7 separate regions of the Homo sapiens genome follow, and regions 1, 2, 3, 4, 5 and 7 are each reported to be linked to region 6. Evidence: microRNA targets listed by miRTarBase, many of them from high-throughput screens and not tested one by one. Region 6 holds a microRNA gene; each other region holds the end of a gene's coding sequence.

The links. The annotated mature microRNA hsa-miR-676-5p reads UCUUCAACCUCAGGACUUGCA and lies in region 6 at 1,455-1,475, opposite strand. An mRNA with a match to its seed (bases 2 to 7 or 8) in the 3' UTR can be bound and repressed. Matches are read on the target gene's strand: a 7mer-m8 pairs with bases 2 to 8, a 7mer-A1 pairs with bases 2 to 7 and ends in A, and an 8mer does both.
Region 1: the mRNA of TREM1 is a reported target of hsa-miR-676-5p. Seed matches in the 3' UTR shown: 8mer at 1,111-1,118.
Region 2: the mRNA of MFHAS1 is a reported target of hsa-miR-676-5p. Seed matches in the 3' UTR shown: 7mer-A1 at 2,979-2,985.
Region 3: miRTarBase lists LIMCH1 as a target of hsa-miR-676-5p. Seed matches in the 3' UTR shown: 7mer-A1 at 2,081-2,087.
Region 4: the mRNA of ZNF573 is a reported target of hsa-miR-676-5p. The part of its 3' UTR that is shown has no 7-base or 8-base seed match.
Region 5: the mRNA of PGM3 is a reported target of hsa-miR-676-5p. Seed matches in the 3' UTR shown: 8mer at 2,949-2,956, 7mer-A1 at 2,928-2,934 and 7mer-A1 at 1,309-1,315.
Region 7: the mRNA of ZNF749 is a reported target of hsa-miR-676-5p. The part of its 3' UTR that is shown has no 7-base or 8-base seed match.

Annotation. Positions count from the first base shown.
Region 1 is chr6:41,272,110-41,276,722 of GRCh38, reverse strand. It overlaps TREM1 (triggering receptor expressed on myeloid cells 1), which reads left to right. Exons shown (of 4, transcript NM_018643.5): 4 at 493-3,118. The coding sequence ends at 598. Among named protein-coding and RNA genes, the nearest start is that of TREM1, 12 kb to the left of the region's middle.
Region 2 is chr8:8,782,781-8,787,274 of GRCh38, forward strand. MFHAS1 (multifunctional ROCO family signaling regulator 1) reads right to left here. Exons shown (of 3, transcript NM_004225.3): 3 at 574-3,275. The coding sequence ends at 3,242. Among named protein-coding and RNA genes, the nearest start is that of CLDN23, 83 kb to the left of the region's middle.
Region 3 is chr4:41,696,380-41,700,992 of GRCh38, reverse strand. It overlaps LIMCH1 (LIM and calponin homology domains 1), which reads right to left. Exons shown (of 32, transcript NM_001330672.2): 32 at 949-3,833. The coding sequence ends at 3,808. Among named protein-coding and RNA genes, the nearest start is that of LIMCH1-AS1, 5.9 kb to the right of the region's middle.
Region 4 is chr19:37,734,469-37,739,081 of GRCh38, reverse strand. ZNF573 (zinc finger protein 573) reads left to right here. Exons shown (of 5, transcript NM_001172690.2): 5 at 1-780. The coding sequence ends at 590. Among named protein-coding and RNA genes, the nearest start is that of ZNF607, 17 kb to the right of the region's middle.
Region 5 is chr6:83,165,038-83,169,624 of GRCh38, forward strand. PGM3 (phosphoglucomutase 3) reads right to left here. Exons shown (of 13, transcript NM_015599.3): 13 at 1-4,286. The coding sequence ends at 4,197. DOP1A (DOP1 leucine zipper like protein A) reads left to right here. Exons shown (of 39, transcript NM_015018.4): 39 at 2,825-3,434. The coding sequence ends at 3,130. Among named protein-coding and RNA genes, the nearest start is that of PGM3, 26 kb to the right of the region's middle.
Region 6 is chrX:70,019,726-70,024,338 of GRCh38, reverse strand. It overlaps MIR676 (microRNA 676), which reads right to left and starts at 1,482; the gene lies at 1,416-1,482. EDA (ectodysplasin A) reads right to left here. Exons shown (of 8, transcript NM_001399.5): 3 at 1,098-1,121.
Region 7 is chr19:57,445,105-57,449,717 of GRCh38, forward strand. ZNF749 (zinc finger protein 749) reads left to right here. Exons shown (of 3, transcript NM_001023561.4): 3 at 1-1,997. The coding sequence ends at 381. Among named protein-coding and RNA genes, the nearest start is that of VN1R1, 9.7 kb to the right of the region's middle.

The DNA.
Region 1 (4,613 bases), not on the chromosome of region 6:
TGCATCTTTTTATTATGATACCTATTGATGTTTACCCAGAAACCTTAGAATCATTTCGCCAAAATCTATAAAATTCATGATGAGATTTTCACTACGGGTGGATTCTTCTCGGTTTATAGGTGAGGAAACCGAGCTAAAGAGGTGAGATGACCATCCCAGTAGGCAGGGTACGGTACTGAGAATAGAGAGCGGGTTTCCTGGCCAGAGTCCTCTCTCCCTACCACATCACAGGGAGGAGGATGGGCTGATCAGCCCGACTGTCTCCCTCCAGTGCCTCTCCTGGACAGGGACCTATACTCTCCACTGAATTGTTTCTAATCAGTAGTTTTTGGCAATGAGACAGACTGAAAAGCACAGGGTCAGGCAGTGCGGGAAAGGTGGAGCAAGGATCTAAGCAGAGGAGAGTGGGACATGAAGGCATTTTCTAGAGGGAACATGTGCGTGTGGGAGAGACTTTGCCAGCAGTAGCGTTCAGCCTCTTGTCTCCCGCAGGGTTCCGGTGTTCAACATTGTCATTCTCCTGGCTGGTGGATTCCTGAGTAAGAGCCTGGTCTTCTCTGTCCTGTTTGCTGTCACGCTGAGGTCATTTGTACCCTAGGCCCACGAACCCACGAGAATGTCCTCTGACTTCCAGCCACATCCATCTGGCAGTTGTGCCAAGGGAGGAGGGAGGAGGTAAAAGGCAGGGAGTTAATAACATGAATTAAATCTGTAATCACCGGCTATTTCTAAAGTCAGCGTCTCACCTTCCTGCCCACTGCCCTCGTTCCTCTAATAATCTTGGGTGGGCATTTGTGCCTCAGAAAAGAAGTTACAGCCCCAAACATGCTTGGTCCTTCATTCCACCAGCCACTTGGGGTTGGCATGAAATACAGACAGCTCAATGCTTTTCACCGTAATTCTCTTGTGGGGGCTGTGACATGCAGAAGGCACACCTGATACTTCTCCTGCTCAGTTTTGCCCTGGACCATACAATTTTGGCCTGACCTGGACAGAGCTCCCACTACAGAAGCATCCTGCTCGCCCCATGCTGGGACTTCCTCTTTCTAGCATCAGACACTTGGGTTTCATGCTTATGTGTGGTTCTTTCCAACACTCCCAGAAAAGGGTGTTGAAGATTGTGGAACCTGGAGAAATAAGACATCGTGGTGAGAAAGTGCATCCTTCTCAGAGAAAAGAGTTAAACTGAGTATCTTCTTCTGGGGAAATACTGGCAGGCCGAGATGGGATCCATAGGAGAGCAACAACAGACCATGTCAGACATCCTGTGTGCATTTATCGCTGGATCCTGAAAATAGCCCCGTGAAGGCAGAAATGTATGTGACTAGAACGAGGCCACATGAATAAGCCACTGCCCACTGGCAGGAGTGAAAACTGAAGCGCTCCTTACCTGAAGGACCCCAAAACCATATAGAATAGAATAACCAGGAGTTCCGCCTGTGTCTAAATGCCTCTTTTCCTGTATCACACAAGGGTCAGGGATGGTGGAGTAAAAGCTCTCCCCCTGGGAGGCTTCTGGAGGCTGTCCCCATGTGCTTGCCTAGTTCCCCACTCTGCCCTCCTCCTCTTCTCTCAGTCTGCTCCTGGAACACCTGCCTCAGTTTCCATGCTCTCTCCAGTGCCCTCCCCGGTGAAGCAGGTAGGTGTTCAGGCCACCACAGAGACAATCTCTGTGGGAGATTGTCTTGCAATCTCCCACAGATTTCAATCAGGATTTTGTTATTTCCTACTTTGAGCTTTAAAGGGAAATGGGCCTCATGGGTGGGGAAAGGATGGTGGGTCCTTCCAGCCCAATTTAGTGATGCCCAGGGCAGATATTATCCTCAGTTCCCAAGAGCAATCATACTTTTCCACACATACCGTGTGTCTCATGTTAGGTAAATGTATTTTTACAATGAGCACCACTTCTGTGGAAAAAGTTCCCTGCACGGGGAGGTCCAGCTTCCAGACTGCTCCATCGCATAAGGACTTCCCCATTCCCCTAAATGCTGCTCTGTCAGAACCTGCCCAGGTAATGGTAATGACCCTAGAGAGATGATTTCTGAACCGCAATTTTGAGCCCATTAGAAGGTGTGTGGTGGGCATTTATTTCATCCTGATGCTCTGGTGAGAATCTTTGCAGACGCACTAGATCCAGAAGCTGTTAATCTTGGTGCATTTATTTTCCTACCTAAAAGAACCAAGCAGCTCAGAGGCAGTGACTGTACAGGATGCAGTGTTTATAATAATGCTGAGCTTGCTGGTCTGGAACCCCACACTTTAGCAATCCCAGCATTGTTCCTGTTTATGAAGTTGACAAAGTGACCAGGGCAAGGGGGTATTATCATTAAATACACTCTAGGAGAGGCAGAACACATGAGGGCAATGTTTTTCAGAGGTCTTTAGGCCACCGCATCAGATTCTCCTGGAGCATAAAGCAAATGCTTTATGAGTCCAGGGCCCCTGCAGACCTACTGTATACTAGTATACAGCTCCCTCTTAGTGGATCTCAAGCTTGTTTCCAAAAAGTCATTACACTCCTTACCAAAGCCCATGACACATTCATACAGATTCATCCAGACATAACCCACTGCATGGTCCAGTGCATGCTTGTGTGCTTAACTTATTATAGATCAAGTGTTATTTAAGTCCAACATATTAAACGTGACTGAAATATTATATGCACTAAATCGGAAGACAAATGGCCGTGCTGGATACTCTCCCATTTGCACTTACAGGCCACGCCATGCTCCATCCTCCCCATCCTGCCTGGGAACCTGACCAATGTGGCTAAACCAGCAGGCTCCCTGGCTGCCAGCTTCTGGCTGGTTGAGCCAATGGGAAGCATGAGAGGAGAGCCGAGGGTGGGGAGACAGTCAGATCAGGGTTTCTGTCCTCAGGGCTCCCTCCCTGGCAGGTGGTGGCAGGAGTGGCTGCATTCCCCTCTGAAGGCTCCTTCAAGCCTCTCAGCAAACAGCTCCCATCTCCAAGTCCAGCCACCTGTTCCATCCTCTCCTCTGTAGGCCCAGCAGTGGGAATGACCCACCACTATTGCCAGCCTCAGCATACTGAAGCACCCCTTACTGGATTCCCTAAATTCTATGCACATGTTTATTAAATGCTCCTCAATTACCCAGTTTCAATGAGCCAGCGGTGTCTTGCTGTTATCTTGACTGATACAATAGTGTTGTGTGGCTAACGACACAGGTCTTGGAGGAAAACCATGTATGGGTTTGAATCTAGCTCTGCATCCTTGCAGGGTGTCTGATCCTGGGTGACTCAGTTAACCTTCTGGGCTTCAATATTCCTCCTTGCCTTAATGGGCATGATAGTGCCTAACCATGCCAGTGATGATTTTGGATGCTAACAACAGAATCCAACTCTGGCTATCTAAAACAGCAAGGGAATTCTAGGGGGATATCAGTAACTCAGAGTTGATGAGAGGCTGGGGGATTGGGTTTAGAAAATGGGCAGAAGCCAAGAGAGAATGGACAGCAGAGGCCACATGAGACAGTCTGGACATGTTGCCATCAATGCCACTGCCCTGGATACTGGAGGCCACCATGCTATTCCTAGACTCTGAATCCTTAAATTGCCTCTGAGTAAGTAATCTGCAACTGGCCCTGCATTTGAGCCTCATCCGCAGATCTGGGGTCCTGGGCAGAATCATGCATGTGGCCAGGCTTAGGTCAAGTCACGTGCCTGCAGCACAGCTGCCGGGAGAAGGGTGGGAGGAATAGCTGCTTCCATCCTCAATAGAAGGGGAAGCAGAACTCTGCATCTGGTGAAACTCACACATTGGGGCCTGTGCCCCCAAAAGAAAAAGGTGTTTGGTACTGGAGAGTCAAAAGATGACACACCTCCATTATACCATCTCCCAATGTTGACAGGATCCAAGGAGACGCCTGAGTAAAGCACCTGACACACAGTAGGACTTCAATCCATGGTGGTTACTGCTATTACTGTTATAACTGGGGTCTCCATGCCTGTGCCTGGACAGGTTAGCTCAGGGAAGCCCATACCTGGTACTCAGGCAAAGCCCCTGAGTCACCGAGACATGCTGCAGGGTCCATCTTACCTATATGCAGCTCTTGCAGACATGGTCAACTTGGACTCCTTGCCTCAGAACCACCTAAGCTGTTGCTAAAATACAGATTCCTGGGTCCCTTCCCAGATCTGCCAAGTCAGAATATCTGGTGGTGGAGCCTGGGTGTGTATGTCTGCCACACTTCCTGAGTGAAGCCACGTGCCTGTCCTTGGGAACCATGGTGCGGGGTGATATTAAAGAGGGAGGATGTAGCAGAAAGGCTTGAACCCGGCCTTGGGGGATGAACAATGTTTGTTTGCGCAGCACCATTTCACAGGGAGACTGGGGTGCAGGCTTGCGGGTTGTAGGGGTCAGTGGTCAGTGATGAGGAGGTTGGTGGCCTGAAGGGGTGAGTGACGCAGTGGGGACATCAGGTGGGTGGGTCTAGACTCACCATGGTGCAGAAAGGGAAGCAACTGAGTGTTCCCATCAGGACTGTGACATCATGATGGCAGGAAAGAAGCTGTCACAAGGGTGGCCAGCCTGCCTCTCTTTTTCTGCATCTTCCTGAGCTGTTCCCCGAGTCACACTTCCCCCAAGGTTTGTC
Region 2 (4,494 bases), not on the chromosome of region 6:
TATGCCCCTCGCTTGAATTCTTTCTTCTGAGGAGGCAAGAATTGAGGTTGCTGCAGACCCGTTATGGATTCACCACGTTAACACCCTGGCTTTGGTCCTTCCTTATCTTCTCTTTGCCTTTATTTAAACAATATGGAGTACTAAATCCTCTGATGGGTACCTGAGGGGCCTGCTCTTCCAGTTTGCAAATAGGGCACCCTGAGGCAGTATGTAGCAGGACTTCTGCTAAGAGCCTTTGAAAGAAAGATCAGGGGAACTTCCAAAGCTACCATAAATTCAACAGCTGTGACTTAGGAATATAGTGGATCATTGAAAAAAAAAAAAAGATTCTGATTTAAGAGAGCTGATCTTCAAGTTATATCCTCAGCCTGAAAACAGAGGCAGTTTTAAAACAGGGATTCTTTAGTTTTCTCTTCGGAGACCAAACAGATGAGAGCTACCACCACCCACCTCCCACAGCTCCAACAGTACCACTAAGGACTAAAACTATAAAAGTCATTCCTTAACTGATAGAATTAAAAGTAAAAACAAATGAACAAAATCTGAAATAATTAAGTTCTGGGAATACAACTGTTTAACCATTTCTTTGTATTTTTATTGATTTTTCTTTTTTAATTTCTGCCCAGTTACAACAACGAAATGGGAAACCACAATTAAAATTCACAAACCATGGCATGAAAAACAACACGCACCCCATCAGGAATTACACCAAACCCCTTTTCCTTTTTATTCATTCAAAAGAGAGTCCAATACACAAGTGTCAAATATGAGCACTGTCATTTTTTTTTTCTTAGAAGGGGGAAAAACATTTATTTTGGCAGTGCTTTGACAATTCCAGGAAGTGGTTTTGATACCACAAGTTGCAGGAATAGAAACCCTAACAAACTTGGAGGGCATTTGTTTGAGAGGCAAGGGACGCCTTGCTTAGAAAACATTCCTCTTGTGCTTAGTGAATCACCTATCGCCTCGGTGGGCTGCTGTGTCTTTCCAGGTGCTGAAAGAGAAAACGGAATTTCTTGCATAGACAGCTGAAGAGTCCTGTAGAGCAGAGTGATTTTTGTATCTCCAACCCTCCTCCCAACTTGAAACAAATTCTCAAGCTTCTCTGGAGCATCTTTTGGTCACATGACCCTCGATCATGGTAACCCTTTTGCTAAGACACATGTGACACCAAGGTTTCCTCTGACACTGCTTCTCTAGGGTTCAGATGACAGCATAAAACATCACTGGTCAAAAATATTAGATATTAAGAATGTGGGCGTTTATGTTCGTAACAGCAAATACTTTGTAGGGTGTGTCACCCAAAGGAGCATTTTTGTCATTTAATATGGTCCCCGGGGAGTTAGCCCAAAATCATACAAATAAGCCTTTTTCTAAAGACAGGTCAAAGTTGGTTAATTTAACAGTTGAGGAACCGTCTCATGCCAATTAAAAAATTCTTACTTCCCAACTATTCAATGGTCCAAAAAGCAATTAAATGTGACCATTCAGTTTTACACACATGCACACACACACACACGGAGACGCGCACACACACACGAGAACTGTGACAAAAGGATTCACCAGATTAATCTTGTGACTGTGTTCTAAAAGAAAATGAAATCTCAAACTTGAGGTGTCCTATTCAAGTATTAAAAAAATGCAAACATCGTCTGATCCCATTCGATTTTTATCATCATAAGAAATCATTCTCTGAACTGCAGGTTCTGGAGTCAGTGAAATTAATGCCTGGGGCACAAAATATTCTACAAAAATCGGTTTGTGATTTCTAGCAGGGCAGTCGCTTGCTCCTTATTTCTTTTAAAAAACATGTTGAGACTTTGTATACTGTAGCCTTCCAAGAGTCAATACTTTACAAAAGAAGTAAAAGAGTAGCGAGTACCAGCAACTCACTCTTCTTGTCTGAGGCTGGCGAGAAGCAGTCAGTTTTATACATTTTCGATCAACCCACGGAGGAGGCAAATGTAAACAGAGTTTTTTACACTCTCCGAAAAACATGTTACTACTGTAGCATATGCTGTTTGGCCCAATTAAAAGTAGAATGGAGAGCAATTTGTTTGGTTGGCTTTTTAAGTTTTACCTTGTGAAGATTTTAAAACAAGGGTATTACTAGTTCTTGGCAGGAGACCGTCCAATCAGAGGCTCTGTATTTATAAATAACCCGTGTGGGATTATGCTCTCCAGTGAATGTAACTGGAGCCTAAATTCACAACCTTAAGATCTGACAGCCAGATGTGGAAGGTCTACAAAGAGCTCTGCTAATAAGTAATATGTTTGCAAAGTGCTCTGCTAAGTAAGGTACTTATTAAGCAGAGCACTTTGTAAGATTCAGAACTGACTCCTGATTATCTTAAGCCATTAAAAGACTCAAGTTTTGCATGGACTTTTTGTCCTCTTTGGCCCCTGAGTGTGCCCCATCTCTGCCCAGCACTAATAACACGTTGGAAGAGCAAAGGATTTCCCACCAGCGTGCCAGATGATTTATATAGGCAGGGACCTTCATTGAAAAGAAGGGAAGGGACACTGTCTTAAATGCACATTTAAGGTTCTTTCTGATTATTGGCAATCTCTATGAACCAACACTTAATCCATGGGCTAACAGAGAGATTTTTTTTTTAATGTGAAGAGGATTAAAGAATAAAGAAAAAACAAAAAAGTCTTATACTAAAATAAGAAATCAGCCCCATCTTGGCACAGTTCTCATGCAGAATATTGCACCCAGTGTGAACTAACGCTAGAAGCTTCAAACTGTATAAATTTAAATGTATTTGCATATTATAAAAATAAAGATAAACATATACATATTTTACACTAGTTATGGAACAGCAATGAACGTCAGTCGATCCCTCTTTCACATTTAACAGAACTGAAATCTGAGTGCTCTAAATACTGCCACCTGTACTGTAACTATGGCTTATATGTGCACGGAAAACAAAATCCCTGAGAAGCCATTCGACTTTTTTTTTTTTTTTTTCTTTTCTTCAAGTAGCGCGCTCCTTGGAGGATCACAGTTCTGAGGTTCAGGTTGTAAAACATTTGCTCCATGTTCTCGTCCATGCTTCCCCCCACCACCCCCTCCCCACCTCTTCCCCAGTCGTCCAAAAAGCACCCTGCAAGCACGCGTTGTCACTCAAGTTCACAGAACACGCTGGGGTGAGTGCAGAGGGTCTGCCAGGTGCAAAAGATGGTCCAGGTGTTCAGATGCTCTCTTTTCTCCATGGAAATTCCACAGCCACAAACGTCACTGGTTTCTGTGCTTTTCACCAACATTCTTCCTGTATGGGTGGACAACAAGAAAGCACAGAGATGACAAAAACGTACTGGACAATGCTACCCTCAATAAGAAAAGGAAGTGATGATAGAAATCTATTTTCTGCACATATTTTCATTTCTACTTCCAGGACTCATTATAAACATGTAAATGTCAGGCAACTTATGTCCCCACAAAGGAAAGAGTCATTTTAGCAGTCTATTTGCCAAACATTTCTGTTGGTGTGTTAAGCTCAGTTCAGCTATAAGAGGGAACTGTACTAACTGGCTGTCATCACTTATTCCACTGTAATTTTATAGCTTAACTAGACCTCTAACTAACAACCCAAAACTCTAAACACGGAACTGTTTCCTTTCAATAAACACACACGGTCACACGCAGACACACACCAAATAATCCTCTAGAAGAAGGAATATATACTAAAAAGTGAGATGTCTGTCTGCCTAAAATGCATGATTTTACTTAAAATGTTATAAGTTAAGTTGTCCACGCAAATCTGGAGTCTGATCAATATAGAATGAATAAACTACTGCAGCCTCAGCAAATAAAGCGGGATTCAGTTCCGATAAAATGGTTAGAGGAAAAAATATCAAGTGTTTTTCTCATTTTTGCTTCCCTACAATGACATGTGATGGGATGTTTTTGAAAGTGGTTTTTTTTTTTTAGCAACTTTTAATAAAATATACAAAGACATTGAAAGGAAAGGAAAAAGGAGTTACGATTCGTTTCCTCCAATCCCCCATCTCTCATTAGGAGAGACGCTGATTTCATGGACACTGATAATTCAGCATCTGCCTAAACACTTCTCCAGTCCATACAAGATTCAGTCATGGGCTCATTCAAGCATGATAATAACGACATCACCAAAACAAAGCAAAGCAAAGCAAAACAAAACAAAACAAAACAAAAAAACCAAAAACCTCTCATTTACTAACTACATGCCAGGAATTAGGTTGTTCACTCTAGTGCATTATTTATCTTCAACTCCTAATAATCCCACCATGTAAGCTCCATCTTACTCAGTATTATTATTATTTTTTTTTTTTTGAGACAGAGTCTCGCTCTGTTGCCCAGGCTGGAGTGCAGTGGCGCAATCTCGGCTCACTGCAAGCTCCGCCTCCTGGGTTCATGCCATTCTCCTGCCTCAGCCTCCCGAGTAGCTAGGACTACATGTGCCCGCCACCACACGCGGCTAATTTTTTGCATTTTTAGTAGAGATGGGG
Region 3 (4,613 bases), not on the chromosome of region 6:
AAAAAAAAAAGTATCACATGTTAAAACAATTGAAAATTTCAGGGGATTTGCTTAGTATTGCCACCACCTTCAAATTTGGAACAGAGTGCAAGGCAGAATACGTGTATACTTCAGAGAGCCAACAGTGTCAGCAGGATGCTACTGATTCACAGCAGATTCCCTGGCTCCACACCTGAGGAAAAGGCCCTTAGTAAACACACCTTACATATATAATAAGTGGGGAACATTGGGGTAGTGCTGGGGAAAGTGGCAGAATACAGGGACTTCAAAAAGTTTGCCTTGGCTGGGTGCGGTAGCTCATGCCTGTAATCCCAGCACTTTGAGAGATGGACGCGGGTGGACTGCTTGAGCCCAGGAGTTCAAGACCAGCGTGGGCAACATGGAGAAACCCGTCTCTAGTGAAAATACAAAAAACTAGCTGGGTGTGGTGGCACATGCCTGTAATCCCAGCTACTTGGGAAGCTGAAGTGGGAGAATCACCTGAGCCCAGGAGGTCGAGGCTGCAGTGAGCTGAGATTGCACCACTGCACTCCATTCTGGGCAACAGAGTGAGACCCTGTCTCAAAAAAAAAAAAAGAAAAAGAAAAAAAAAGTTTGCCTTGCTTTTTGTCTAGCCAGTGCTGCAAGCTGACCATCATTTGGTTGTTTCAGACGAGTTTCACTGGCATTTGCATGGCCTCTGCTGGTTATTGTGTGTCTCATCTCCAGGAGCTTAAACCCTTCTATAGAAGGCAATTCCTCAGTGACCCCTAAACCAGCCAGTAAGTTTGGTTTGCCTTCAATAGTTGACCTCAACTATGCATCAATAGGTACATGCAAACATCCAGCACTGCCATCATCTGTCTATGTAACCCTGGACCAAAAGCTACAAGAGAAAGCTTGAGTCTCTCTTCCCCATGTAAGAAAACCAACTGCCACCCCTCCAAAAATAATTAATGGAATACAAAGTTGATTTGAGTATTTTATTTATAAATGTACATTTACTATAAAAGCTGTTGCATTTTAGACAACTTGTTGTTTTTATTTTTTACTGTTTCTCAGAGGCATTTTAGAATAAATACTTTAAATGAAAGTTAGTATAACCGATATAGAACACTGGCCCACCCAGAGCAGTAACATCTTTTGGACGGACTCACATATGAGGTGGATCATTTCAGTTTGTTAAATCTTACACTGTGTATAGATAACTATAATATGTATTGCATTAATCACACTACATAGAAAGGAAATGTCATGGAAGTTCGCTAGTGAAAAACAAAAAGTTACCCATTATTTTTATTAAAGAGTAGGGACTAGCTTTTGGAGTATGAGAAAAAAAATCAGATATACTTCCTCAGGAACAATAAATCACTCACTTGCCTCACCTGTTTTTTAAACAAACACATTTACATTATAGCTCAATGGAGCAGAGCATTTTTTTTTTCCTGGGATCTCAAAGATTATTTGAAAAGAAATAGATCATACTCATTATGCTGCATTGGAAAAAACAAGATCTAGTCTGCCTAAGCTGCCATGTAACAGACTCCAAATGAAATATAAATCAAATATAAATAGAAACAGTTGGCAATTAGAATTTAGAAAATGTTGGAGATTATTCTGTGCTGGTGACTAGTGTTCATTATGGGAAAGCACATTTTGCAGTTGGAGAATGGGGCTTTATTTTTCTTGACTCGATTCTAGCTTCAATACATGTACAATGAGCCTCACTAAGAAATATGTATAAATGGGTTTGTGAAACCAGAAGGGAATGTGCAATATTCATGTAATCCTTACATAACGGATGGAGTTGCACATGTAAAAAGTATTCTATAAAAATCGGTTATGAATGACCATATTGTACATGTTTGTGCATTACTAGTGGTACTCTGCTAATATCATGCAAAGTGTAAACATCCACATTATCAAAATATTTAATAAAACATGCAGGTGGATAATCAAAATATTGGACTTGATCTGTACATTTTCAAAACAATTTTTCTTTTTAATTTTTTCTTTTTTTCTTTTTTTATTTTTATTTTTTCCTGTAAAACAGCAAACACCTCCATGAGAAGTCTTGGAAACTTGGAAGTGACTTCATCTCTCTTCAATGTACTGCATCCATAATTTATCGCCATGTGCAACAGCTTTGCGTTTTCTAAGGCACAATTTTTAATGAAATGATGTGTAGATTTCAATCTAATAACAGCTCATCCAAATGACAAATATGGTCGAAATCCCTCCAGTGGCTGAGGAAATTTCTGCACCTATATGGAACCCACATGCAAAGAACCCATCTAGCATGTAATAAATAATCGCTAGCCATACTCAATAAGACACGGAAAAATTATTGCTTACATAACAGAAAAACATCTACTTGACCCCCTTTTATGACTACATCAATCTATTAGGAGTGTATCCATAGTCTACATTCACAAAATGTCATCTTGACTTATTTGCCATTGATTTAAGGCAGAATAAATAGTCCCCCTTTCCCCAGTCTTAACAACAAAAAACAAAAAACCAGCCTGGAGATCTACATTGTGATGCTTTTTAATAACTTGACTCCTTTCTTGGCCAGCTGAAACTCGTCGCACAGGGCAGAAAATAAACCAGCTCTCCACAAGAGTTCCTCTCTAAACTTCTCCATGGGCAAGGTCCGGAGTTCTTGATAGCAAAAAAAGTGATGGAGAATGGAGGAGAGTAGGTATTCATTGAAGTGGGCAGGGCATAATCTGTGCTGTAGGTTCTTGCTGATCACAGACCAGGGGCTGACCACATCATATACCACATAGATTCTATTAAGATGGACTTAACGCTTTTCTTTGGACACCTGTGCTTCAGGCCCTTAAGGAGAACTTGCCAGCAAGGGTGAGCAGTGCTCACACCTAATGATGAACTTATCTCGGTGCCTCATCTTCCATATACCTCATGTTAAGTCTCTTATTGAAGACTCCTAATCTAGTGCCTCGAGAGAAGCAGGCAACAGAGGCCTGATGTCTGACATTGACTCTTTGGAAGATTAAACTTCCTCACAGATTTTGATAATGACTTTGGAAATGATGACTGAAATATTTCCCTCTGCTTTCTTCCTACCTTTGGGCAACGTCCCGGAGTGTAAATCTAGCTGATATTGCAAGGTTTTGCTTTATTTGATGAACCAGCCTATATTAATGACATAACTTCCAAGGTACACAGAATCTAATACTAACGGTGCAATAATTTATTGGTATAATTTCTACCTCCAAAGGTAAGTAACACAAATGTTTCAGGATTACAGTATATATTATCAAACTAGTGTCTTTGCATTAAAAACAAATTATAGCTCAGAGATAGAGCTTGCTGTGATGTTTAGTTTCTGAAATGCATTAAATTTATCCTTCAGTCTTAGAAGACCGTGTGTCTCAAATTGGCATGTCTTGCACTTTCTGCAGCTCAATTCTGTAAACATAAAGTGTTTAATTCCTAGACATTCTAAAACAAAACAGGTTTATTGCATCATTTAGCTAATTCCCAAAGAAGAGAATAACACATTTTAAACCATAAGCCTGTTTGACCATGCTAAAACCTTTTTTGAGCTATTCAGGATCATTACAACCCCATATTCTTTTGTGTATACTGTGCAAATGCAAAAAAAAAAAAAAAACCAAAACAATAAACAGGAAAAACATAAACACTGTGCTACGAAAGAACAGATACCACCTTTCAGAAGAGCCTTTCAGAAATTAGGTAAATGCTGAGAAGCCCCTGAGCTTGGGATTTTGTTAAGCAGTTGCCAGGGGACACTCTCAGTAAAGAAATGGTGAGTGATCCGGAAGCTTGAAAGCCGTGTCACAATGTTGTAGGCTGCCCGGCACCTGTGATTAAAACAAACAACAACAAACAAGAGTGGTAGGCAACATTTCTCGCTTCAGACATTTTAAAACCTCCCTAATGAGCAACTGCCTTTACCAAAGTCTCCTCTTCCTGGGGACCAGAAACTTCTCCCATCCTGCTACTTGAAGTGTGGCCCCAGGACAAGTAGTACTGGCATCACCTGGAGTCTGTTTGAAATCCGGGCTCTTAAGCCGCATTCCAGACCCACTTAACGTGGTGCCCAGGTGATTCACATGCACTGTGAAGTTTGATCAAATGCTCTGGATTGCCCCTAAACCAAAGCATCTCCATCAAGTTTTCTACCTTGTCCTCTGGGGCAAATAAGCAAGAAAATAATCTCTTTTCTCTCAGTTTCCTTAGGTTTTGATTTCTCTAAGAATAAGTACATTGTAATATGAGGAATTTGACATATGATCTAGAAATTAGATTGCTAGATTCAGCAAGTATAAATACGCAATACCCAGTACAGTATAATTTCAGATAAACGACACAGAATTTTTCAGTATAAGCATATCCATATGATATTTGGGACATACTTATGTTAAATCCAGAGCATGCAATATTTGGGACATACACAGACTTAAAAAATGTATTGTTTATGTGAAATTCAACTTTAACTTGGTTTAAAAAAATTCCACTAGGTATCTTATATTTTATCTGGTAAACCTATCTAGAAAGGATTGTTTGGGTTCCATATTTTCTGCTGAAACCTTCACAGGATTTCTCCTTTTTAGGCACTACAGTTGTGATGAGGCAATTGC
Region 4 (4,613 bases), not on the chromosome of region 6:
TTGAATGTCAGGAATGTGGGAAGGCCTATAGTACTGGCTCAAACCTTATTCAACATCGGAAAACTCATACTGGTGAGAAACCCTATAAATGTAAGGAATGTGGCAAGACCTTTAGCTTGCATGGATATCTTAATCAACATCAGAAAATTCATACTGGTATGAAACCCTATGAATGTAAGGTATGTAGAAAAACCTTTACTTTCTATAGAAATCTTACTCTACATCAAAGTATTCATACTGATGAGAAACCTTTTGAATGTAAGGAATGTGGGAAGACCTTTAGACGTAGTTCACACCTTACTGCACATCAGAGCATTCATGCTGATAAAAAACCCTATGAATGTAAAGAATGTGGAAAGGCCTTTAAAATGTATGGCTACCTTACCCAACATCAGAAAATTCATACTGGTGGAAAACCTTATGAATGTAAAGAATGTGGGAAGGCCTTCAGTCGTGCTTCAAACCTTGTTCAACATGAGAGAATTCATACTGGTGAGAAACCCTATGTGTGTAAGCAGTGTGGGAAAACCTTCAGATATGGTTCAGCCCTTAAAGCCCATCAGAGAATTCATAGGAGCATAAAAGTGTAAGACCGTAAAGAGTACGAGCGCGCCATTCATCATCAGACAGCCCACACTGGTGAGAAATGATGGAATGTTAGTCTTATAGGTATGGCTTTAGCAATTGAGAGAGTTCAAAATGCAGATCTTGCCACATTAGAAAGCATTCAATGTCAGTCCTGTTTTAATGGAATATCTGACTATTCAATGGTAAATTAAGAAAAAAAAAAAAAAAAACAGGAATCCCAGTTTCTTCATGCCTACAACATCCATGGCATGGATTTTTTTTTAAAAAAACTTAATAATTAAGGCTGGGCGCGGTGGTTTGCCTGTAATCCCAGCACTTTGAGAGGCCAAGGTGGGCGGATCACGAGGTCAGGAGATAGAGACCATCCTGGCTAACACGATGAAACCCCGTCTCTACTAAAAATACAAAAAATTAGCTGGGCGTGGTGGCAGGCGCCTGCAATCCCAGCTACTCGGGAGGCTGAGGCAGGAGAATAGCGTGAACCCGGGAGGCAGAGCTTGCAGTGAGCAGAGATCGCGCCACTGCACTCCAGCCTGGGCAACAGAGTGAGACTCCGTCTCAAAAGAAAAAAAAAAAAAACTTATTAATTAAAAGGATGACCAAAAGCCTTTCATACTAGATTTCAATGGCTGTATTACAAATTACCCCAAGCCTTAATGTCTTACCACAACAATAAACATCACTCATAGGTTCTGAGGGTCAGAAATTCGGAAGAGGCTTAACTGAGTGCTTTTGAATTGGTCTTTCCATGAGCTTGCAGTCTTCTGAAGGCTCCTTGGGGCGGAAGGATCTGTTTTCCAGGTGGCTTGCTCACACTGGCAGGCTGGCTTAGACAGTGAGAGTGCCAGGAGAAAGCTGTGACTTTGGAGCCGTTTTTTGTTTGTTTGTTTGTCTGTTTTTGTTTTTGTCTTTGTTTTTTGAGACAGGGTCTTGCTCTATCACCCAGGCTGGAGTGCAGAGGCATGCTCATAGCTCACTGCAGCTTTCAACTTCTGGGCTCAAGCAATTTGGGTGGCTTCTTGAGCATATTTTGCATGACGTAGAAATATAAGCAATTTGTACTCAGAATGCCAGTCGTGGTGTTTTAAAAATATGTCCTCAAATTCTTGAAACTCTACCCTTCAAACTTGAAGTCTGGCCAGGCACGGTGACTCACGCCTGTAATCCCAGCACTTTGGGAGACCGAGGCCTAGCCAGGCGTGATGGCACACGCCTGTAGTCCCAGCTACTAGGGAGGCTGAGGCAGGAGAATCGCTTGAACTTGGGAGGCGGAGGCTGCAGTGAGCTGAGATCGTGCCTCTGCACTCCAGCCTGGGCAACAGCATGAGACTCCGTCTCAAAAACACAAACAGCAAATAAAAAAACCTGAAGTCCAATTCCCTTCCCTTTGCATGTGAGCTGAACCTAGATGAACAGAATCTTCAGGATCACCTTTCCCTGGTGCTCATGCTCACTTGTTCATTCACTCTCGTGCAAATCCGGCCTCCTCTACCTAGGGCTTCTGCAGAGGCTGCTGACAGAGCCATTTATAGAAGTTTCATTGAATGGTGATTCTCATAATTGTCACATTAGATATTGCTGGAGTCTTAACCAAGGGTTTTTAACAGTCATACTCTATCTGTTCTTTGGAGAACAGATAACCTGCCTGTGAAGTGCCCACTCTGCTCCCTCTCTGAAATAATCATTGTGTTAATGTTGAGGCCATGCTTCCTATGGGCTGCCCCCAGCTCCTTTTCTGAGCATAACATAAGTATTCATGCTAGTCAATTCTTACGAAACCCAGACCCTTCAGCTGGGGAACTGTGAATCAGCCAGGCTGAAACTGTTTTCATACTGCCCCGCGTTTTCATAGTTTTTCTACCAATCTTGCTTCATCCCTCTCCTTCAGAGTCATCCATCTTGTACCATGGCCTGAAGGCTTTCACTGCCTTTCCTGGACCTCTTTTTCATTCATAGCCCCCTCCTTCCTTCTGATCTGATCTTGCTTTTTGCTTTTCAGAGGATCAAAATGAACACATACCCTAAGGTTACCTACATACTATGTTTCCCTAACAGCACTCTGGATTTTATCTTTGTCCAGAGACTATTTCTGAAGTTTAGCATCATTTGCTTTCTGGAGAGGCTGGGAGTTTCCAAAAGCAAGTCCTGGTTCACTTCTGTTTAACAGTCTTTTTCTAGCTTATCTCACTTCTAGCACTTAAGCAACAAGAAGCAAGACACCTTCAACATTCTGCTTGGGAGTTTCCTAAGCTAAATTACCCACTTTTTTTGTTGCTGTTGTTTGTTTGTTTTTGTTTCTTAAAGACACAATCTTGCTTTGCCACCCAAGTTGGAGTGCAGTGGTGTGATCATAGCTCACTACAACCTTGAACTCCCGGGCTCAAGTGATCCGCCCATCTCAGCCTCAGGAGTAGCTAGGACTACAGGTGTATGCACAACTACATCTAGCTAATTCTTTTTTTTTTTTTTTTTTTGGTAGAGATGAAGTCTCCCTATGTTGCCTGAGCTGGTCTCAAACTCTTGATCCTCCTACCTTGACCTCCCAAAGTGCTGGGATTATAGCACGAGCCTGGGCCAGTTACACAGTTCTGTAGGTATTATTTTGTACTTTTCACAGTAACCACGTGCAGCCATGTTGCTTTCTGCTGTTGCATAACAAGAATCCCTTCCCCCTAGTCTCCAGTAACATTTTTCAGTTTTCTTTAAGCCCTCACTAGGAGCTCCTCAAAAATATCCAGGTTTCTGCTAATAATATTTTCCAGGCACTTCCAATTTCCACCCAGTTTGTGGTCCCAATGCCCCTCTGACATTTGTAGCTTTTTGTTTCAATAGCATCCCTTGTCTAGGTACCAAAATCTGTTATCTCATGCCACATTCCAAAGAACCTGAAGAATTAGTGGCTTAAAATGCCAATAAATGTGTATTTTTCTCACAGTTTCTGTGAGTCAGAAATTTGGGAGCAGCTAAGCTAGGCAGTTCTAGCTCCAAGTGTCTCAAGAGGTTGTGCTTATCTAAAGGCTTGACTATAGCTGTAGGATATGCTTTCAAATGGCTTAGTTCTGTGGCTGATAAGTTTATACTGGCAAGTCGTTTCTTCTCCCAAGGGGCCTTGTCCATAAGCTGCTTGAGTGTGCTTGTGACGTGACAGATGTGATCCTTTTTATAATCTCTCTTTGGAAGTTAGTTCTGCCACGTTCTGTTTGTTCCCAGAAAATCACTAAGTCTGGCCTACATTCAGTAAGAGAGGAATTAAGTTTCACCTTTTTTTTTTGAAGGCAGGATCTTTCACTGTCGTCCAGTGGAGTGCATATGGCTAACTTCAGCCTCAACCTCCTGGGCTTCAGTGATCCTCCTGCTTCAGCTTCCCGAGTAGCTGGGACTACAGGTGTGCGTCACCATGCCCAGCTAATTTTTAAATTTTTTGTAGAGATGGGGGTCTCACCAACTTGCCCAGGCTTGTCTCAAACTCCTAAGCTCAAGCAGTCTTCCCACAGTGTTCCCAAAGTGCTGAGATTATAGGCGTGAACCACTGTGCCCAGCCCACTTTCACTTTTTAAAGAGAGAAATGTCAAAACATTTGCAGACATATTTTTATTTTTAAATCGCCACACCTGACACCACTCAATCATTGTTGAAGTCTCAAAAATTAGTACTAATAAACTAACTTGTTAATGTCACATATGCAATAGTGCTTTTAGCCATGGCACATGCCTTACCTGTCATCACTGCCACATAACTCCCTGTGTGTCATTGGCCAAGATATTTATCATCTATGGGAATTATTTGCAAAGTATAATCAAGAGCCTACATGAAACCCAGGCATGGTGGCGCACACCTGTAGTCCCAGCTACTCGGGAGACTGAGGCGGGAGGATCGCTTGAGGCAAGAGTGTAAGCCTGCAGTGCTCTATGATGGTGCCTGTGAATAGCCACTGCACACCAGCCTGGCTTTTTTAGGCCCCATCTAAAAAGAAAAAAGGTACATAAGAGTCCTATTATGCGGATGTGGCCGAAATTATACTTGTC
Region 5 (4,587 bases), not on the chromosome of region 6:
CATAGTTCTCTTACATTTGGAAGTTAGCTATATAGAGGGTACAAGGATATTCATTTTCCTTCAGGACAAAGTCATCTCTGTACGCCCTTTATTGTTGAATTGCAGTTTGATTTAGGGGATTAGAGGTGGTATGGTACCAGTAATTGAGTAATGGTGGAAATGTGAAAGTCAGTCACAGGACTCTCATTGGTGCCAGTGTCATAGTTAAGAAAGAAAGAAAGAAAGTTTTATATATCCTGTAATCTAGACTGGAAGCTAAATAATTGCTAGGAAGCAAACTTAAGTGATAGCTGTTAAGTTTTTTGGTTTGTTTTTGACCAGAGATGATGAAGTAGGTGATCTTTTCTTGGTTTGCTCCTAGACTCTTCCATTTTAACTTATATTTTTAGTTTGGTGCAAAAGTAATTGCTGTTTGGGACCATGAATTTTAAGTCATTATAACTAGGTTCACACAAATCTTTATTAATTAAAATAGGAACCATTACAATCAACACATTTTTGCCAATGAGAAATAAGTTTGTTTACTCCTGTAGCATAAAAATCCATGCTTCCAAATTTGACGAACTCTTGGAAAGCATTTTCTGTGTCCTGCTAGTTGTGGAAGCAATTTCCCTGCAAAACGTTGCTGAGATGCCTAAAGAAGTGGTAGTTTGTTGGCAAGAGGTCAGGTGAATATGGCAGATGAGGCAAAACTTCATAGCCCAATTAGTTCAATTTTCGAAGCGTTGGTTGTGCAACGTGCGGCCCAGTGTTGTCGTGAAAAGAATTGGGCCCTTTCTGGTGGCCAATGCCGGCTGCAGGCATTGCAGTTTTTGGTGCATCTCATTGATTTGCTGAGCATACTTATCAGATGTAATGGTTTCACCTGGATTCAGAAAGCTGTAGTGGATCAGACTGGCAGCAAACCACCAAACAATGACCATGACCATTTTTTGGAGCAAGTTTGGCTTTGGGAAGTGCTTTGGAGCTTCTTTCAGTCCAGCCACTGAGCTGGTCATCGCCAGTTGTCGTATAAAATCCACCTTTTGGCACACATCACAATCCGATAGAGAAATGATTCATTATTGTTGCATAGAATAGAGAAAATGACACTTCAAAACAACGAATTTTTTTATTTTTCACTCAGCTCATGAGGCACCCATTTATTGAGCTTTTTCACCTTTTCAATTTGCTTCAAATGCCGAACGACCATAAAATGGTCAACATTGAGTTCTTGGGCAGCTCTCTTATAGTTGTAAGAGGATCAGCTTCGATGATGTTCTCAATTGGTCATTATCAATTTCCGATGACTGGCCACTGCACTCCTCATCTTCAAGGCTCTAGTCTCCTTTGCAAAACTTCTTGAGCCATCACGGCACTGTATGTTCATTAGCAGTTCCTGGGCCAAATGCATTGTTGATGTTGTGTGTTGTCTCTGCTGCTTTATAACCTATTTTGAACTCAGAAAATCGCTAAATTTGATTTTTGTCTAACATCATTTCCATAGTCTAAAATAAATATAAACAGCAATAAGTCATTAGCAAAAAAAAAGTGAGAAATATGCTTAAAATGATGTATAACATAACCACATTTATTTAAGAATGTACTCCAATATAAAACGGCAAATTTCAACAATGCAAAAACCGCAATTACGTTTGCACCAACCTAATATTTTCCTTTTTCAGGATTTTACTTTAAAATAAGCAATAAGCTTGAGAGCACATAGAAGAAAATAAGCTGGATTTTGCATCTGCTTGACCCACTAGGAAACTAGTGATATTAAATTATTAGGTAAACAATGAAAGTTTCTGAGCAACATCTGATCTTAGAAGGCAAACTCCATTTGTTAATATGACAGATTGTAATTCTGCTTCCTAAGTCTTCATGATTTCTTCCTTCTGTCTAGTTCATTGCTTATTTTCATTCTTTAGTGTGGAATTGTATCTGTGATTCTGCCCAAGTTCAACCAACCTGTTCTCTCTTATCTTTCTCTAGACAGAATGATGTCTGTAGCTGTGTTTGTGTAATTCAGGTGGCTTCTCAAACTAGCCTCTTAATACCCAAATTATTAGTCTTTATATTTAGTTGACAGAGTTTTCACATACCTTCTCATTTGACTTCTCTACTAAAAGGTAGTTTTAGACTGTCCCATTTTATAAGTGAGGAACCTTTGTATATCCTGCCCAAGGGTGCCGTAAGTATGGCAGAGCCAGCACACTAACTCAATTCCTTTGACTCCAGGTCCAGCTTTCCTCCCTATGTTGTTTAGCACAACCCAGAAGGAGACAGCAGTGTCTCCTGAGGGATCCCTTCCTTTCTCTGTGATGCAGTACTGACAGTAATTATTCACTTTGGACACTGCTACCATCATGGCAAATTTAGGCCATTTAGATAAAAGGGAATTAACTAATTATAATAAAAGGGGATATATTATGAAATGTATAAAGCACTTTGTTCCTTTTTTCTGTAGTAATTTTGTGACCTAGTCCTTGGTTACAGTAGTGAGGGTTCAGAAACCTGGGAGCTTTTTGAGTAAATACAAAGCACAACATAAAACTTTTATGTTTGACTCTATTCCTGTTCAAAGCTATTTCTGTTAACTAAGCTTATCTGCGCATTCTAGTTGGGAACTATTACTACAATGTTAGACTGCTCCATGTAAAACTAATAAATGGCAGTAAAAGGTCTCAGAAGCACCAAGGGTTTTGATCAGGTCAGGAGTTAGAAACTTAATGTCATTTGTATTCATTTCTTGACCAATTGCCAAAGTTTATATATTTTTAATTTTTCTAACATACCACATTGTCTGTTGTATTAATACCAGTTCACTTTTTGTTTTCTGCAGAAAAATCCAGAGGAAGACAACTCAGGGAGAACATTGGGTTGGGAGCCAGGGCACTTGCTGCTCACCATCTGCACCGTGCGCAGTATGGAGCAGCTCCTGCCGTTCTTCAATGTGCTCAGTCAAGTCTTCAACAGCAAAGTCACAAGCCGATGTGGAGGACACTCAGGGAGTCCTATCCTCTACTCAAATGCCTTCCCTAATAAGGACATGAAACTGGAGAACCACAAACCATGTTCCAGCAAAGCCAGGCAAAAAATAGAAGAGATGGTAGAAAAAGATTTTCTGGAAGGGATGATAAAAACTTGAGCACCATTGCTGGTTCCATTTAGCTTACATGTAAATGTAATTATTTAAAACACACACACTGCTCTGCGTTGTATAGTTTTTCCTTTTTTGTATGTAACAGAACACATTTCAGATTGTATTTAATTTAAATATTTGTATATAAGAGCAAATGTCTGAATGTGGCCTGAATCAAGTTTAAATATTGTTGGCTCATACTGATTATGGTGCCTAAGAGAGCTATATATATACACATGTAAAGTCCATTGTTTTTATTGTCCTGAGTTGTCTTAAACCTGCAAAATATACACTACCCATTTTTTTTTTCCATTGGTTTCAGACTTGGTTCAATTAAGATTGGTTGGGGATTTTTCTCTTTTCCTTATTAACCATGTTCTGGTATCAGAATGGTGTTCCTTCTCCATCAGAGGCTGGGAAACGTATTATAATTAGTTTTTCTCCCACATACCTTCACCAAGAGCAGTGAAGAATAACTGAAGGCTGGACCATGCATCCTTAAAAGTATTGCATGAGCATCTCCACCTCAGTATGGAAGAGGGATGGACAACCCCCTATTCATACCTCTGAGTTCCTGATGGCATTAGTCATATAGGTAAGTCATCTAATAATCTTTCTTAAGACTCTGCAATGGAAAAACTGGTTGTATAAAGTCTTCTCTGCCCTCTCCATTTGTATCAGCAATGGGGAATGCTGCAAAACATCATCTTGCTCATGTGATGGTGATGGCAAAGATATCACAAGGAGTTGGTAATAAGATTTAATTTTCCAGTAGCCTGCATGAATTGTTCCCCACATAAAACTGTACAGTTAGTGACTGAATTGTATACTTAAGTCCCAGTATTTTACATTAGTGAGACTGAAATTAGAGGTAAATTTCTTTAACAAGTGTAAGGCTTACCTATTTATAAAGAATTATTCTGTTAGTGTTTAAGAAAAACAGATCTAGAGACAATCCAGTAGGCTGCATTGTAAACATTATGATTATAAATCTCTTAGTACTGCCATTATTATTGACAGTTTTGTAAAGACTTGTAAAAAGTCCAGTTTCTCAGGAATATGAAAATTATCTTCAGAAACCTGGTTGGGGCCTTTCTCCAATTCCTCCAGCCAGCTGAAATACTGCCAAGCTCACTTCATGTGCAAGGTGATCTGCACTTTCCTGCAAATTACATTAAAAGAGATTAGATGAGAAAGACATAGCATGTGTCTAACATGGGCAAGACCATGTTACTTGGAACTCTGGGGAAGAGAGGGGTGATTCTTGATTTTGTTTCACTAACAAATTCTAATGAAAACCTTTTTTCATCTTTCAGTAACAAATTCCAAAGCCCTTAAATAAACGGAAAACAGACCAAATTCTTCTAAATAAGGTAAGTTTTTAATCAATTCAGATTATAAAAATAGCTATCATTCCACAACTGAAAAAATTCAATAAAACTTTAATCCACAATTGGCCTAAC
Region 6 (4,613 bases):
TTCTTTACAACAGGCACACAACTTTTCCATGTGGACTATGATACCTCAAGGCACCAGAGTACCCTAGTGTTCAAAGAAGTGGCAGACTGCAGCTGAAGCCAGTCTTTTTGGCCTAGTCCGGGGTTGACAATCTATTCTATAAAGCTCCATAAATCTTATCACACAGCATCATTTCACTTAAAGCATTTTAATGAACAATCATTAGTTTTACTCTGTCTTCCTCCCAGGTCAGAACCCAGAAACAAACAGGTGCTTTAACTAGTTTCATAATTGGTTCTTTCAGTCCTAAGAAGTAGACCATATTGCCTGGCCCTGTCTTTGGAGACTGTTCTGTCTTTGGATTGATTCTCCTCTTTTAGTAAGTGAGCACTTGTAGATGCCCTAGGGCCAGTTTCATTGCAAGTACACTGGGGACTTACTGACCCAACAACGGCACAATGGAAGCTGCTTTGAAAAGACTAAATGGTCAGGGTACTACTCCAGAATAGCTTTTTCATTACAGAGAAAATGATATTGAATCCTCAAAGCAAGAAATACCTTCCCTGACTCTTTGGGAAATCAAATCAGGGAAGCTTTAAGTCCAAGAAATAGGGTACTGACATCTTTTGATAGGTAGCGTATCTAGTTCCTACATGGTGACACAGGATTTCATTCACACTCAATCACTGATTTGATAAAGGAGGAAAAAAAGGATAAAAGCGAGTGCCTGTAATCCCAGCTACTCAGGAGGCTGAGGCAAGAGAATCGCTTGAACCCCAAAGGTGGAGGTTTCAGTGAGCTAAGATTGCATCATTACATTCCAGCCTGGGCAACAAGAGTGAAACTCCGTCTCAAAAAAAAAAAAAAAAAAAAAAAAAAAAGAATAAAAAGAAGGGCAGGGAGAAGAACAAGGAAGAATGAAAGAGGTGAATCATCACTGAAGAATGATTTCTTGTTCTTCAGAAACTACAATACTCAAGAAGATAACATATGATTGAATAAAATAACAGACAGACAATGCTGAAAGAATATAATACAAAAATCGCACTCTTGATTTTTTTCTTCTAACTTTAGAAAATATATGACAAGACAGCAATTTTATAAAGTCAGGAACTTACCCTTTTTCTTGTTTTTAACTGGGCCTATAAGAAAAATAAAATAGATAATTAAGTCATTGGAAATGAACAGAAAATGTTTATTTTCTAAGATAGTCACTAGGAGGGATCCCCAAGACACTGCAAATTTGAGGGAGTCTCACAGCCAAGGGTCAGGCTTTTGGCAAGGATCCAACTATCAAACCTCCCCATTCTGTCTTCTGACTCCTGAGGCCACAAAAGTTTCAAGGAAGATTCTTCCCTAGGGAGAAAAATCTCTCTACTTCAGTCTTTGGGGTGAGGGAATGGGTACTTCCCCATAGAGATGAAATGCCCAGAAATGCACAACTCAACAACCTTAGGACAGCATTCCATTAATTCTGCAAGTCCTGAGGTTGAAGAGTCATGCGTTCAGGTGAGAATCTGATATGAAGTCTCGTGTTGAACTTGGAAGGAGCAAAGGGTCATTTTCATGGAAAGAGCAGAGCAGCAGTGTTTAACTTTTAGTCACTTCCTTATCATGATTTAATTTGTTACTTATTAAAAGTTTGACCATAATACACTCTTGAGGGCCACATGCATTTCCATTGTAATTTACTATAAGTTAATGGACACTTTAAAAGAAATGTCGGCCGGGGGTGGTGGCTCACACCTGTAATCCCAGCACTTTGGGAGGCCGAGGCGGGTGGATCACGAGGTCAGGAGATCAAGACCATCCTGGCTAACACAGTGAAACCTCGTCTCTACTAAAAACACAAAAAATTAGCTGGGCGTGGTGGTGGGCGCCTGTAGTCCCAGCTACTTGGAAGGCTGAGCCAGGAGAATGGCGTGAACCTGGGAGGTGGAGCTTGCAGTGAACCAAGATCACGCTCTACACTCCAGCCTGGGTGACAGAGCGAGACTCCATCTCAAAAATAAATAAATAAATAAAATAAAATAAAATAAAATAAAATAAGACATGTCAACCATTTCATTGGCAGTGAAATCACAAGCATTTTATTGGAAATTACTTCTAAGGAAAATAATTCTAATCAATTGAAGGTACTTAGAAAACCCAAGGTGTTTCTAACATAGTTAGGTGACCGCAACTCCCCAAACAGTTTAGGTCGCTCCCAGACAGTCATTTTTTTTTTCCCTTCTAGGAAATAAATTCTCTTCATTCTGTATACGGATTTGACTTTCTTTAAATACAGGTATTTAAAATCTGTTCCAAACTGCCATGAAGACACAGTTATACATTAAACCACTGTCAGTGCCCTCAAGAGCTTACAAAAGGAACACCAAGCATTTCAATATTATAGTTTATAAAACATATTTCCATTTATCATCTCATTTGATATTTGCAACAAACGTGGAATGATCTCTAACTATAAGAGCAGGCCCTATTAGAGATCAGTAAAGTCTCTAACCTGGAGGGCTGCCAGAGTGGCCATCAGAGCTTTCACAGGTCCCTTGAAAAACCAATGTCTGTGTAGACTTTTCTGGCAAAGTAATTTCATGTGCAACAGTAGCTATTGTTATGTCCAGGGGATGTTTTAGATTGGAGCAACCTGCTGTACTTAAGGTCATGAATCTCAATTCTCTTTTCCTTCTCTCTTCTCCTCTCCTCTCCTCCCAGTTCTTTGTCTTCTTTCTTTGTTACCCATCCTTTATGAATTTTTTTTTTAACAGCATTGCGAGTTCTTGAAAATGTGCTTGGAAGTTCTGAGAGGAAAGCACAACTACATAGACATTAATGATATGAGGCAGCGACTCAACCTGAGAAACGCCTTTTTCTTGAACAAGAAAGCTGTTTGGGGAAAGATTTACACAGAAAGGGCTCAGCTCTATCAGCCAGCTAGCCACCACAGCCTAGGAGAGTAGTAGGAAGACAGCCATTATGGCTACCCTGCCCTCTTTGCAAAGGTGTGCTGGCCCGGACCAAGTTTTTGACCGTTTCAGCTGGTTAAGGGTAAGCACTGTTATATCAGACTTCAAAAGCAGACTTTGAAGAAATCAGGCCATCACCAGCCAACCAGTCCTTACAGAGTATGTGTATGGAAGGCAGTAAATAATGAAACGCAACTCACAACTCTACCTTCAAGAACTTACAGTTGAATAGGGAAATACAAAAGATGAGGGAGTGGCTTCAGGAATTATACTGGCCACTTAAGGGGAACAAATAGCTTCCTGGAGAAGGTCTGACTTAAATCCACAAGTGAAAAGAGAGAAATGGAAATTTTAAAATCTTTTTAAGCTTCTATTATTTTCATACAAAATATACCTACTCCTTACACATACATAAACGCATGCATACATACGTATATACATACAAAAGAGGAGCAAAAGGAAAAAGAGCTTATTAAAGCACCCCCAAATAATCACTACTAACATTTCATGCACATCTAGAAGTCTTCTATGTATATAAATAGGTATTTTTACAAAATGGGATCAGATGAAAAATGTCATTTGATAACCTTTTTTATGTCAATAACTACATTTTTACATTGTAATTTTTAATATGGATGCATCAGCGTTTAATCATCTTTGATAAATATTTAGATTGGGTCCAGTTTTTCACTATTATAAACAATGATGTACATTTATAAACAATGTATGTTTATAAGCAATTTATATGTACATTTTATAAACAATTTATATGTACATTTATAAACAATTTATATGTTATGTACATTTATAAACAATGATGTACTTTTTTTTTTTTTTTGAGACGGAGTCTCGCTCTGTCGCGCAGGCTGGAGTGTAGTGGTGCGATCTTGGCTCACTGCAAACTCTGCCTCCCGGGTTCACGCCATTCTCCTGTCTCAGCCTCCCGAGTAGCTGGGACTACAGGCACCCGCCACCACGCCCGGCTAATTTTTTGTATTTTTTTAGTAGAGATGGGGTTTCACTGTGTTAGCCAGGATGGTCTCTATCTCCTGACCTCGTGATCCGCCTGCCTCGGCCTCCCAAAGTGCTGGGATTACAGGCGTGAGCCACTGCACCCGGCCCCACATATGTACATTTTTATACACTTGTCCAAAGGTTTTTTAGGATGTGTCATTAGAAATGACACTGTTGGGTCAAAGGGTGTGAAAAGCTTTCCTTACATGTAGTTAAACCTAATAATCTTTTCCTATATGGTTACTGCCTTCAGTGTCATGCTTACTTAGGCCTTCCCTAATGTGATATTATAGGTAACTCTTTATATATTTTCTAGTTCTTTTATGGTTTCATTTTTATTTTTAAATCTACAATTAATCTGGTATAGATTTTGGCATACAGTGTAAGACAAAGAGTTAACTAAAATTTTTATATTTTTTCCCTAAAATGCCCATGACATGAAGAGTACCAACAGAAACAGGGCTCAAAGTCATTTCTTAAACTTTTATTTTAGTTTCTGGGGTACATGTGCAGGTTGGTCCTATAGATAAACTGTGTGTCACAGGGGTTTGGTGTATATATTATTTCATCACCCAGGTAATAAACGTAGTACCCAATAAGTAGTTTTTTGATCTTCACCCTCCTCCCACTCTCCACTCGCAAGAAGGCCCTGGTGTC
Region 7 (4,613 bases), not on the chromosome of region 6:
TACAAACTCATTATTCATCAGAGAGTTCATACTGGAGAAAAGCCTTATGAATGCAGCAACTGTGGGAAGTTTCTTAGATACCGCTCTACATTCATTAAACATCATAAAGTTTGCACTGGGGAGAAGCCTCATGAGTGCAGTAAATGTAGGGAATTGTTTAGGACTAAATCGAGCCTTATTATACATCAGCAGTCTCACACTGGAGAAAGTCCTTTTAAGTTAAGGGAATGTGGGAAAGACTTCAACAAATGTAATACTGGTCAGCGCCAAAAAACTCACACTGGAGAAAGGTCTTATGAGTGTGGTGAATCCAGCAAAGTGTTTAAATACAACTCCAGCCTCATTAAACATCAGATAATTCATACTGGAAAAAGGCCTTAGTGGAGTGAATGCAGGAAAGTCACCAAAACTGTCACCTCATTCAGCACCAAAAGGTTCACATCGGACCAAGAACCTATTAATATATGTAAATCTAATGTTGAAAGAGTTCAGATGGAAATCTGCGAGGATTTCCTGCTGGGAACTACATTAAAAACATTTATGTCCAGGCGTGGTGGCTCACGCCTGTAATCCCAGCACTTTGGGAGGCAGAGGTGGGTGGATCACCTGAGGTCAGGAGTTTGAGACCAGCCGGGCCAACATGGTGAAGCCCCATCTCTACTAAAAATACAAAAATTAGCTGGGCATGGTGGCAGGTGCCTGTAATCCCAGCTATTCAGGGGACTGAGGCAGGGAGCATCACTTGAACCTGGGAGGCGGAGGTTGCAGTGAACTGAGATTGTTCCATTGCACTCCAGCCTGGGTGACAGGGCGAGACTCTGTCTCAAAAAGAAAAAAATTATAATTGTGGCAAATTACAGGTAACTTAAAATCTACCATCTTAACCCATATTTAACTGTACTGTTCAGTAGTGTTAAGTCATTCGCATTGTTGTCAATTAATATCCAGAAGTTTTTTCAACTTAATGAAACTAAAACATTATACCCTTTAAACCAGGGGTCCACAACCCCCAGGCTGCAAACTGGTACCAGTCTGTGGCCTGTTAGGAACCGGGCCAGCATCACTACCTGAGCTTCACCTCCTGTCAGATGAGCAGCATTAGATTCTCATAGCAGCCTGAGCCCTATTGTGAACTGTGCCTGTGAGGGATCTAGGTTGTGTGCTCCTTATGAGAATCTAACTAATACCTGATGATCTGAGGTGGGACAGTTTTATTCTGAAACTGTCTGCCCCCTCCTCTGTCCCTGATGCGTGGAAAAATTGGCTTCCATGAAACCAGTCCCTGGTGCCAAAGAGGTTGGGGACCGCTGCTTTAAACTACTCCTCTTCCTCATTCCCTACGCCAACCAGCCCCTGACAATACTACTGTATGAATTTTACTATAAATATCTCATATGAGGAAACTTAAGTTTTAGTCTTTTGTGACTTATTTTGAGGCTTATTTCCCTAAATGTCTTCAAGGTTTATCCATGTTGTAGCATAGCTTATGATTTTCATCTTTTTTAAAGGCCGAATAAAATCCCATTGTAGTCATGTGTCGCCTAACAAGAGGACTGTGTTCTGAGTAATCATCTTAAGGTGATTTTGTCATTGTGTGAACAAAGAGTGTACTTACACAAACCTGAAGGGCACAGCCTATTACGCACCTAGGCTATATGATATGGTCCATTGCGCCTCAGATATAAACCTTAACAGCATGTTACAGTATTGAATATTGTAGGTAATTGAAACACAATGATAAGTAAATGTGTATCTAAACATATCTAAGTTTCCAAAAGGTACTGTAAAAATGTATGAAAAATGGTAAAAACTTTATAGGGCACTAACATGAACGAAGCTTGCGGGACCCCTCTGGTTGAGTCAGGGAGTGAGTTGTGAGTGAATGTGAAGCTCTAGGACATTACTGTACCCTATTGTAGATGTTATAAACATTGTACACTTAGGCTACTCTAAATTAATTTTTTCTTTAGTAATAAATTAACCTTAGTCTACTGTAACGTTTTTACTTCATGAACTTTTAAAATTTTAAAAAGCTTTTTGACTCTTTTGTAATAATAGCTTAAAACACAAACACATTATACAGCCTGTATAGAAGTACTCCTTTATATTCTATAAACTTTTTCTATTTAATTTTTTAACTTCGTAAAAAATAAGTTAAAAATGAAGACACAGACACACACATTAGTCAAGGCCTACAGAGGGTGAGGATCATTAATATCACTGTCTTTTGCCTCCACATCTTGTCCCACTAGAAGGTTTTCAGGCTCAATAACAGGGAGTTGTTATCTCCTATGATAACAATATTCTGGAATATTTTCTGAAGCCTTGCCTCACACTTTTTTTTTTTTTTTTTTTTTGAGACAGAGTCTCGCACTGTTGCCAGGCTGGAGTGCAGTGGCACAATCTCGGCTCACTGCAACCTCTGCCTCCTGGGTTCAAGTGATTCTCCTGCTTCAGCCTCCCGAGTAGCTAGGATTACAGGTGCCTGCCACCACGCTCAGCTAATTTTTTGTATTTTTAGTAGAGATGGCGTTTCACTATGTTGGCCAGGCTGGTCTCGAACTCCTGACCTCATGATTCGCCCGCCTCAGCCTCCCAGAGTGCTGGGATGACAGGCATGAGCCACCGCGCCTGGCTTTATTTTTTTTTTGAGACAGAGTCTTGCACTGTTGCCTGGGCTGGTGTGTAGTGGTGTGATCTTGGCTCACTGCAACCTCCGCCTCCCGGGTACAAGCGATTCTCCTGCCTCAGCCTCCCGAGTAGCTAGGATTACAGGTGCCCACCAGCATGCCCGGCTAATTTTTTGTATTTTTAGTAGAGATGGGGTTTCACTATGTTGGCCAGGCTGGTCTCCAACTCCTGACCTCATGATCCGCCCATCTCGGCCTCCCAAAGTGCTGGGATTACAGGCATGAGCCACAGCGCCCGGCCTGTGCTCTTTATATGACTGGCAGACCAGTAGGTTTGTTTACACCAGTGTCACCACACACACTTGAGTAATGGGATTGAGTTACAGTGGCTGTGGTGGCACTAGGTGATAGGAGTTGTTTAGCTCTGTTATAATACGGGATTACTGTTATACATGTGGTCCATGGTAGACAGAAATGTGTGGCATATGACTGTGGTATATGTATATGCCACTTTTCCTGTATTCTTTCTTCAGTGTACATTTGGGTTGCTTCCACTCTTCTGTTCTTGTTAATGCCACTATGAGCATGAATATACAAATACCTCCTGAGGCCCTGCTTTAAATTCTTCTTGGACATATACCCAGAAGTGGAAATGGTGCTTCCCGTTAATAATAATAATTATAATAATAATAATTATTATTATTATTTTGAGACGGAGTCTTGCTCTGTCACCCAGGCTGGAGTTCAGTGGCACAATCTCGGCTCACTGCAAGCTCCGCCTCCCGGGTTCACGCCATTCTCCTGCCTCAGCCTCCCAAGTAGCTGGGACTACAGGTGCCCGCCACCACGCCCGGCTAATTTTTTGTATTTTTAGTAGAGACGGGGTTTCACCGTGTTAGCCAGGATGGTCTTGATCTTCCTGACTTTGTGATCCATCCGCCTCAGCCTCCCAAAGTGCTGGGATTACAGGCGTGAGCCACCACGCCTGGCCACTTCCCGTTAATTCTATTTTAAATTGTGGGGGGAATTATTTTCCATAGCAGCTGCACCATTTTACATTCTCACCAGTGCAGGGGTTCTAGTTTTTCACATTATTGCCAACACTTTGTTTTTTAATCATGATGGGTGTAAGATGTTATTTTATTATGGTTTTTTAATTTGCATTTCAGTATTGGTGTTGAGCATCTTTTCATTTGCTTGTTGACTAATTGTATAGGTTCTTTGGAGAAATATCTGTTAAATGTCTTTGCCCATTGAAGAAAGTTTTTGTAAATTTTCAGATAACATTGTATGCTTTTGTTGTGTACAACATGATGTGAAGTATATATACTTTGTTGAGTGGTTAACATGTACGTATTATATATGTACATATTCTGTATACGTATTTTAAATATTAACCCCTTGCAGATATGTGTTTTTCAAATACTGTCTACCATTCAGTCTGCTTCCTTTTCATTCTGTTCATGTCTTTTTTTTTTTTTTTTGCACAGGAGTTTTCAAATTTCAATGGAGTCCAATATATGTTATGTTTGTTTCCTATGCTTTTGGTATTATACCCAAGAAATTATTGCTAAATCCAGTGTCATGAACCTTTTTTCATGTTATTTTCTAGGAGTTTTATAGTTTTAAGTTGTACTTTTATGTCTGATTTATTTCAGTTTGTTTTAGTAAATGGAGGAAGGTAAGAGTTCAACTTCATTCTTTTGCATATAGATATCCAGCTTTTTGAAAGTCATTTGTTGAAAAGACTCCTTAATAAGTTTTTGCGCTCTTGTCAAAAATCTGAGCATAAGTATGAGGACTTCCGTCTGGCCTCTTTATTCCACTATATGTATGCATTTGTGCTAGTACCAAGGTGTTTTGATACATAATTCTTTTAAAAGAATAATGTTTCTGTCCACTGTTGAGGCCCTTGCTAGAGGCTTGACAGTGCTACATTTGGAACAGCTGATTAAGTACACTTCCAACCACTTTCCTTAACAG